Regions from separate parts of the Homo sapiens genome. Here region 2 is linked to region 1. The links come from fine-mapping of genetic effects on gene expression. A gene starts in region 1. The other region holds a variant in brackets. All regions are shown on one strand. Distances are between the middles of the regions.

What was found. PIP is the estimated chance that this variant, and not a neighbour inherited with it, causes the effect.
Region 2: its variant is the best candidate, but not a certain one, in a credible set for the expression of ZNF470 in esophagus mucosa (GTEx, PIP 0.51).

The regions. Positions count from the first base shown.
Region 1 is chr19:56,565,008-56,569,402 of GRCh38, reverse strand. ZNF470 (zinc finger protein 470) reads right to left here and starts at 1,935. Exons shown (of 6, transcript NM_001001668.4): 1 at 1,365-1,935; 2 at 520-645. ZNF470-DT (ZNF470 divergent transcript) reads left to right here and starts at 1,382. Exons shown (of 2, transcript XM_047439806.1): 1 at 1,382-2,330. The coding sequence starts at 1,382. The coding sequence ends at 2,320. RefSeq lists enhancers at 1,496-1,605, 1,986-2,195, 2,206-2,255.
Region 2 is chr19:56,443,891-56,448,285 of GRCh38, reverse strand. The region is part of intron 6 of ZNF667 (zinc finger protein 667); the gene reads left to right. Among named protein-coding and RNA genes, the nearest start is that of ZNF667, 31 kb to the left of the region's middle. The variant C/T (reference allele first, on the strand shown) is at 2,181.

The sequences.
Region 1 (4,395 bases):
TCCATGGAGAATTCCATCTTTTCCAGAGAGAGGCATTCCTTTCGTTACAACAGAGTCCATGTGACTTGCAGACAACCAAATGAAAAAATCCTCATGAGGCCTAGGATCTCATTTTGTTTTGTGACAAACTACAGTGTTGAAGCAGTCCCTTGACTCCACTGAGCCATGTTTCCTTAATTAGGAAGGAAGAGGATAAAGTATCTGAATTAATTCTAGTTTCTTTCATCTAAATTCCACTGCCTTCTCAAAGGATTATCATAATGATGATAAAAATGAACACATTACATGGCAGGGACTATACCAAGTGCTTTACATGTATGAGGTCATTTAATCCTTATGACAGTACTGTGAGGTATATAATATTACCATCTCCATTTTACCTAAGAACTTAGAGTCATAAACTTTTTAAGAAAAAAACCCCAAACCTGCTCAGTGGAGGTTCTGGCATATGAACTATTTAGTTATTTAACCCTTTCAGAGTCAGTTTCTTTAATTGTCAAAAGTGGCTAAGAAACCTACCTGAGGCAGTAGTTGAGGAAACTACATGACAGCCAGTGACTCTGGAGTCAGCCTGTTCTGGATCTGAATCCCGGTTCTTCCACTTGCTAGTGATTACTTATCCTCTCTATGCTTCTGTGTCTTCATCTGTAAAAAAGAGGTAAGTAGTTCCTACTTCATAATGTTGTGAAGTTTGGTGCTGATACTCCCAAAAGGTCTTAGAACTGTGTCTGGCACATAATAAACACTCATTAAACATTAGCTATTACTATAGCATGCAGGAAACTAAACAAGCACAGAACAATATGGCTAAAAATAGCCCTTCCTCCCCCTTTCTCTTTATTGGAGTGGGAGGCCAGAGGGGAGGGAGAGAAGCCCAAGGAATGGGGATATCTTCCGTTATTGACTAGAACGTGATTAAGCCATAGAAAGGCTGGAATGCCTCGGCATTTCTGGGTGAAGCTGTGAATCTCGCCTTCTTCCCAAATCCTACAGTGATAGATGGGACAAGGCTCTGACGGGTAAAAATCTAAATGCTGAGCTATTCCTTCAACAGCAGCAGAGTACCCAGAAGTAATGCTATAATGGGTAATATTACGGGTAGTGTTCTCTCCCATGGGCCCTTAGTGATATACCAAGGACCTGAGTCAGGTTATCTGGTTAGGTGTCTCTGGCCAAGTCAAGGTCCCTCCCTAACTAAACCCAGCTCCACTCTGACCCAAGGTGACCCTCCAAATCTTTCGACTTCCAGGTCCACTAGCCTTAGAAACGGGGGACATCCTCCTCCAGCACCTGAACCCCGAAAGACAGCACCCAAAACCTCAATGTCCACTCCGGCAGCCACATCCGTCATCTGTCACTCTTACCTGTGTACTCAGTCCCCATGGTCTTCGCTCCTCGCCGTCCTGTGGACATGGAGCCCTGTCCTGGGCTCTGCCCCTTCCAGATAGGGCTGACAGGAAATGCTTCAGCCGAGGCTGCCCCGCCCGGGCAACTTCCCCGGGCTCTAGGACTTTGCCCACACTGGGCTCTACGCAGTCGATACAGGGGAGAACGGGGTAAGCCTCCTCCGGCCGGGTTTCCTGCTCTTGGCCACTTAAAGTGCTTCACTCATTCCAACACACACCGCCTTCCGCACGCCGCCGGGCCATGCACGCAGGCGCAGATTCGCGGCCACGCACCGGACAGTCACACACCGGGCCGCCATCCCCGCGCGCGCTCGCCCCTCCTCAGCACAGCACCGCACGCTCACCACGTATGGGCACTCACAGCCACCAGGCCACACGCGCACGCTCACGCCCGCCGCCCACACAGGAACCAGGACACCGCCCCCGCCGCGCCCCAGTCCAGCCTCGGCCGCTGCCCCGCCCAGACCTCCCTTCTCCTCAGCAACCGGCGGGACGTGCACTCGCCCGGCTTTGGGTCCTTTCCGGAAGTGGGCGTGTCCTCCGCTGCAATAGCCCCTGGGAAGTGTAGTCCGGAACGGAGGCGGCGTTCAGAAATAGGGCGCTGGCTTTGCCAGGAGCGGCTCCTCTCCAAGCCTGGCGGTCACTGCCCTGTGTCCCCTTTTGGGCCTCTCCTGGTCCTCCTGGTTGGATTAGGAGGCCTCTCAGCCCGGAGTCTGGGTCGCCGAAGTACAGGCCCCTTCACTGAAGCGACCCACGGCGCAGGGGTTTCTGGAAGCCATCGCCAGGCTCCGAGTGTTCAGATGCAGCTGCCAGGCTCAGGACGCAGAGAACTGGCTTCCAGCTCGCAGGAGCGCCTGTCCGTGGTGGGTAGGGTCGCAGGCGTGGGGTGTGCAGGAGCAGTGGGACAGCACTGAAACGCAGTCGGTAAGGCGTAGCGGCTACCCTCTGGAGAGGAAAACCATGACAGGGCGGGGCTTGGGGCGCGGGCGGGGCCTACGCGATAGAAAAGTGAGGAGATTGGGATTTGTCTGCTTTGCACACTTGTGACTTTCTGATGGTGCGCGTGTGGAACCTGTTTTATTTCATGCCTACTAGTTACTGCTCTCTGATATACGGTACGCCCCTCACCTCCCCCCACCCCATTTTATCTCTCCCTGCTGGAAGGAGGGTTCCAAGAAGGCACACAGCTTCCGTCCTGTTCAGGGTTATATTCTCAGTGACTAAAACAGCACATAGTAGGTGCTTAGTTTTTTATTTTTATTTTATTTTTTAGGAAATCACGAAATCTAGCATTGCCAGTCTCACCATGACACAACATGTTATAGGCTGAATATGTCCTCCCAAAATTACTATGGTGAAACCCTAACCCCTAGTGTGATGACGTTAGGAGGTGGGACTTTGGGGAGGTAACTGGTTTTAGATTAGGTCATAAGGGTGATACCCTTATGATGGGGTCAGTGCACTTATTAAAAAAGAGGAAGGAGGGGTCTCCATGTTTACACAACCACCAAGCAAAGGCCATGTGAGGACACAGCAGGATGTAACCCATTTGCAAGCCAACGGGGCCCTCACCAAGAACTGAATGTGCCAGCACTTTAACTTCCCAGCCTCCAGAATTGTGAAAAATAAAGTCTCTTAGTCAAGTCACTTAGTCTATGATATTTTGTTATAGCAGCCCCAGCTGACCAAGATACAGCATCATAGATACTGGCTCACCAGAAACTAACTCACCCTCCCAGTCACACTCAATCACCCAAGGCCACACAGTGACATCTAGACTGGACTCTCCTGGATCCAATTTATGTCAGACATCATAAACAACATAATAAAGCCAAGTCTAGCTGTGAAGATACTTTAACTATGAAACAGCAAATATCATCTTAGAGCTTGTAACGTTTGTGGTTATTTGAGTTGGATGAAAATGATAATATTCTCATTTTAGCTCTGGCATATAAAGAGCTCGGAAGCCTTCATTCCCATCTTCACAACAACAAAATCATTCAACAAACTGAAAATCAACTTTTCTTAGATCCATCAGAGAACTGAAGATAGAAAGGTAACTGACACCCCAAAATCCCGAGAAAGAAAAATACATAAAATTACAGCCAAGATTAGCTTACTTGAAGCAGAAGCCACTGGAGTTATAAACTGGTAAAAACTTTTATTTTTTATAATTTTGATGAATTGCTGGAGGCTTAGTGTGGGCTAACTTGTGAGTTAAAAACTCCTAGGGGCCCAATCTTAGATGGGCCCCCACACTTTCGTGAATTTTACCTCCAGAAACCCTATCAAATTCTCTCAGTGAAGAATGGGGAAAAATCTCAGGTTTTTGGGCAAGGGGAGGAGAAAAGTAAGCACCACATTTTCCATAATAAACACCTGCACTCCAAGAAAAACTACTTACTAGAGTCTTGTTGGACCTTGGGGAGAGGCAATTGGCCAGCTCCAGTCCCTCTATAGCCTGTCTGTCTCAGTAAGGCAGGATTTTTGAAAGGCTAAGAAGTGCTTCTGAAGATCACAGTCCAAGGCCTCAAGCCCACTAGAAAAATAGTATTTAATAATAAGATTATAGAATGCTTCCCTCCCCACTGTACCTCACTGCCACACTAATGGGGCTCTGGTCAATAACAGTAGATTACAACAGAGAAAACTGCAAGGCACAGACTCTATTTAAGAAGGAGTTCTTAGGGAAGCCCACAGAAGGAGAAGCATCTTGGAAAAAGTAGACAACATGCAAGAACAGATGGGTAATGTAAGCAGAGAGATGCAAACTGTAAGAAGGAATCAAAAGGAAATCCTAGCAATTGAAAACCATTGTAACAGACATGAAGATTACCTTTAGTGAGCCCCTCAGACTAAGACACTCTGAGAAATGAATGGGTGAGCTTGAAGATATGTTAATAGAAATTTCCCAAACTGAAATACAAAGAGGAAAAAAAAAGAATGAAAAAAGAAAAAGAACAGAATATCCAAGAACCATGGGACAATT
Region 2 (4,395 bases), 120 kb after region 1:
AATGCTTCCTCTGGGGGTGCTGGCCAAATTCTGCCCCACGTTGCTTTCTGCTGTGACAGGGCAGCACTGAGTTCCAATGCAGAGTCCCACCATCACTCCATTCTTCCTCCTCCAAACACATAGATTCTCTCTTGTTGCCATGCTGCACTGCCAGGCATTGGGGGAGGGGTGGTGCAGGCATATGATGACTGTCTTTTCTACCCTCCTCAGTGCCTCTTTCTTTGAATACGATGTTAAAACTTGATACTTTGATTGCTCACCTAATTTTTGGTTCCTATGAAGGTGTTTTCTTATGTGGATAGTTGTTCAATTTGGCGTTACTGCAGAGGGGGCAATCGCTGGAGGGCTCTATTTGGCCATCTGGCTCTTCCACTTTCTCCTTTTTAGTTGTTTTGTTTGTTTTTTGAGATAGAGTCTCCCTCTGTCACCTAGGCTGGAGTGCAGTGGCACCATCTCAGCTCACTGCAACCTCCGCCTCCTGGGTTCATGCAATTCTCCTGCCCCAGCCTCCTGAGTAGCCGGGATTACAGGCACACATCACCATACCCAGCTAATTTTTGTGTTTTTAGTAGAGATGGGGTTTCACCATGTTGGTCAGGATAGTCTTGAACTCCTGACCTTGTGATCCACCCACCTCGGCCTCCCAAAGTGCTAGGATTAAAGGTGTGAGTCACCATGTTTGTTTGTTTTTTTTTAAGGAGACAGGGACAGGGTCTTCTGTTACCCAGGCTGGAGTGTAGTGGTGCAGTCATGGCTCACTGCAACCTTAAACTCCTGGGCTCAAGCAGTCCTCCTGCCTCAGCCTCCCAAGTACCAGTTTGTTTCTTGAGCCCTTGTGGATAGACTGGATATCCATATTGGTTTACCCATACTGGATAGGCCATAAATCTTTCTTGTAGATTTACTAGCATTTGTTTTCTGTTTTTACTTATTCTCGTGAATTGTTTTTTCGTGATCTTTCCCCTTTTATCTAGCAGTGACTTTTTTATTTTCTGCTTGTATAGTAAGCTTTCATATAGAAAATACATTAACCATATGACATTACATTTGACTTCAAATATTTCCCCATTCTTTCCTAAGTCTTTTTATTTTATTTACCTCTTATTTTTCTACTTGGTTATATGAAAGTTTTTTTCATTTTTGTGTGATTGGAAGTATTGGCATTCACATTATAATTTTTCTTTTTATTTCCATAGTTAGAAAGAATTTGGGGTAGATTTCATATTATTTTAGTTTGTAATGATTTTGTACTTTATATTGAACTAATTTACCTGGGATTAATTTTGGTGTCTGGTGTGGTTTAAGGATTTCCACATTGAAGATGGGGAGATGGGCTGAGGGGATATGTTAGTATTCCACACAGGAAGGAACAAAGGAAGGTACAAAGGAAAAGGAAGGGAAGCTAAGAGTTTTAGGAAAATGTGAGAGGGAGAAGCAGCTTAACTGATGTGACTTAATGGGATGTGGGGTGGGAAGGACTATAGGAGGAATCTTGGGTTTCTTGTTTTGCTGATGCTGCTAGCTTCACTATAAACATTTCCATTATCTTCCTGTGTTAATTCCTTATTTTGTCTGGTTGTTTTCTGGAACTTCTACTAATAATAATTATAATGGTAGCTACTACCAGTTATTAAGCAACTGCAGGTCCACAAAGCTTTCTCTAGAACCCTTGGAGCAAGATGTGTTTCAGAATTCAGAATGGTGCAGATTTTAGAAAGGTGAACAGGTCATATACTATGTGTGGCATAACATACCCAGCAGGGGCTGGAGCAGTACCCCAAAATCAAACACATTGAGATAGCTGCAAAGACTAGACTTCCTAAGAGCAATAAATGGAGGCTATGAATAGCCTCATTGCATTTCAGATGGGGTTTCACTCCAAATATGTATTCAAAAAGGAAAAGAAAAAAGGAAAGAAGACTTTGGTTCTCAGCTTTTTGAATACTGGAATGGCAGATTAGAGGTCATAGCATGTGCCAGAAATCTCGCACATTATTTCTAATTCTCATGAAAACCTTGTGAGGTACGTGATTATTATCTATATTTTCAAGATAATATGCTTATGGTAATAGAGTTAACAAGTGTGTCACAAGATTATGCAGTTAAATGAAAAACACCTCAGTTAATTCAGTAATGTCTGCCTTTAAAGCACACCTATGAAATAGAAATATAATGTGAGC[C/T]ACATATGTACTGAAAAAATCTTTAGTATCCACATTCAAATAAAAATCTAAAACCAGTGATATGGTTTGGATCTGTGTCCCCACCAAATCTCATGTTGAAATTTAATCCTCAGTGTTGGAGGTGGGGTCTGTGGGAGGTGATTGGATCATGGGGGTGGATTTCTCACCAAATCTCATGTTGAAATTTAATCCTCAGTGTTGGAGGTGGGGTCTGTGGGAGGTGATTGGATCATGGGGGTGGATTTCTCACCAAATCTCATGTTGAAATTTAATCCTCAGTGTTGGAGGTGGGGTCTGGTGGGAGGTGATTGGATCATGGGGGTGGATTTCTCACCAAATCTCATGTTGAAATTTAATCCTCAGTGTTGGAGGTGGGGTCTGGTGGGAGGTGATTGGATCATGGGGGTGGATTTCTCACCAAATCTCATGTTGAAATTTAATCCTCAGTGTTGGAGGTGGGGCCTGGTGGGAGGTGATTGGATCATGGGGGTGGATTTCTCACCAAATCTCATGTTGAAATTTAATCCTCAGTGTTGGAGGTGGGGCCTGGTGGGAGGTGATTGGATCATGGGGGTGGATTTCTCACCAAATCTCATGTTGAAATTTAATCCTCAGTGTTGGAGGTGGGGTCTGTGGGAGGTGATTGGATCATGGGGGTGGATTTCTCACCAAATCTCATGTTGAAATTTAATCCTCAGTGTTGGAGGTGGGGTCTGGTGGGAGGTGATTGGATCATGGGGGTGGATTTCTCACCAAATCTCATGTTGAAATTTAATCCTCAGTGTTGGAGGTGGGGCCTGGTGGGAGGTGATTGGATCATGGGGGTGGATTTCTCACCAAATCTCATGTTGAAATTTAATCCTCAGTGTTGGAGGTGGGGTCTGTGGGAGGTGATTGGATCATGGGGGTGGATTTCTCACCAAATCTCATGTTGAAATTTAATACTCAGTGTTGGAGGTGGGGTCTGTGGGAGGTGATTGGATCATGGGGGTGGGTTTCTCACCAAATCTCATGTTGAAATTTAATCCTCAGTGTTGGAGGTGGGGTCTGTGGGAGGTGATTGGATCATGGGGGTGGATTTCTCACCAAATCTCATGTTGAAATTTAATCCTCAGTGTTGGAGGTGGGGTCTGTGGGAGGTGATTGGATCATGGGGGTGGATTTCTCACCAAATCTCATGTTGAAATTTAATCCTCAGTGTTGGAGGTGGGGTCTGTGGGAGGTGATTGGATCATGGGGGTGGGTTTCTCACCAAATCTCATGTTGAAATTTAATCCTCAGTGTTGGAGGTGGGGTCTGTGGGAGGTGATTGGATCATGGGGGTGGATTTCTCACCAAATCTCATGTTGAAATTTAATCCTCAGTGTTGGAGGTGGGGTCTGTGGGAGGTGATTGGATCATGGGGGTGGATTTCTCACCAAATCTCATGTTGAAATTTCATCCTCAGTGTTGGAGGTGGGGTCTGTGGGAGGTGATTGGATCATGGGGGTGGGTTTCTCACCAAATCTCATGTTGAAATTAATCCTCAGTGTTGGAGGTGGGGTCTGGTGGGAGGTGATTGGATCATGGGGGTGGATTTCTCACCAAATCTCATGTTGAAATTTCATCCTCAGTGTTGGAGGTGGGGTCTGTGGGAGGTGATTGGATCATGGGGGTGGGTTTCTCATGAATGGCTTAGCACCATTCCCTTGGTGGTGTCTTAGCAATAGGGAGTGATTCTTACAAAATCTGATCGTTGTAATATGTGGCACCTCCTCCACACTCTCTCTCCTTGTTTCACCATGTGATGTGCCTTCTCCTACTTCGTCTTTCACCATGAGTAAGAGCTCACTGAGGCCTCCCCAGAAGCCAAGGAGGTGCCAGCACCATGCTTGTACAGCCTACTGAACCAGGAGCCAATTGAACCTCTTTTGTTTATAAATTACCCACTCAAGTATTTATTTATAGCAATATAGGAACTTCCTAATACAAACAGGTAAAATTAATTTTAGTAATATATGTATTTAACCTAATATATCCAACATATTATATCATATAACCAGCATTTTTACAATGAGATACTTTATACTTTTTTGTAGTAAATTTTCACAGTCTGGCATATGTTTTATACTCATAGTATACCTCAAACCAGCCACATTTCAATTCCTCAGTAGCTACAGGTGACTAATGGCTACTATATTGGATAGCATAGTTCTAAAGCCTGTGTTTATCATGC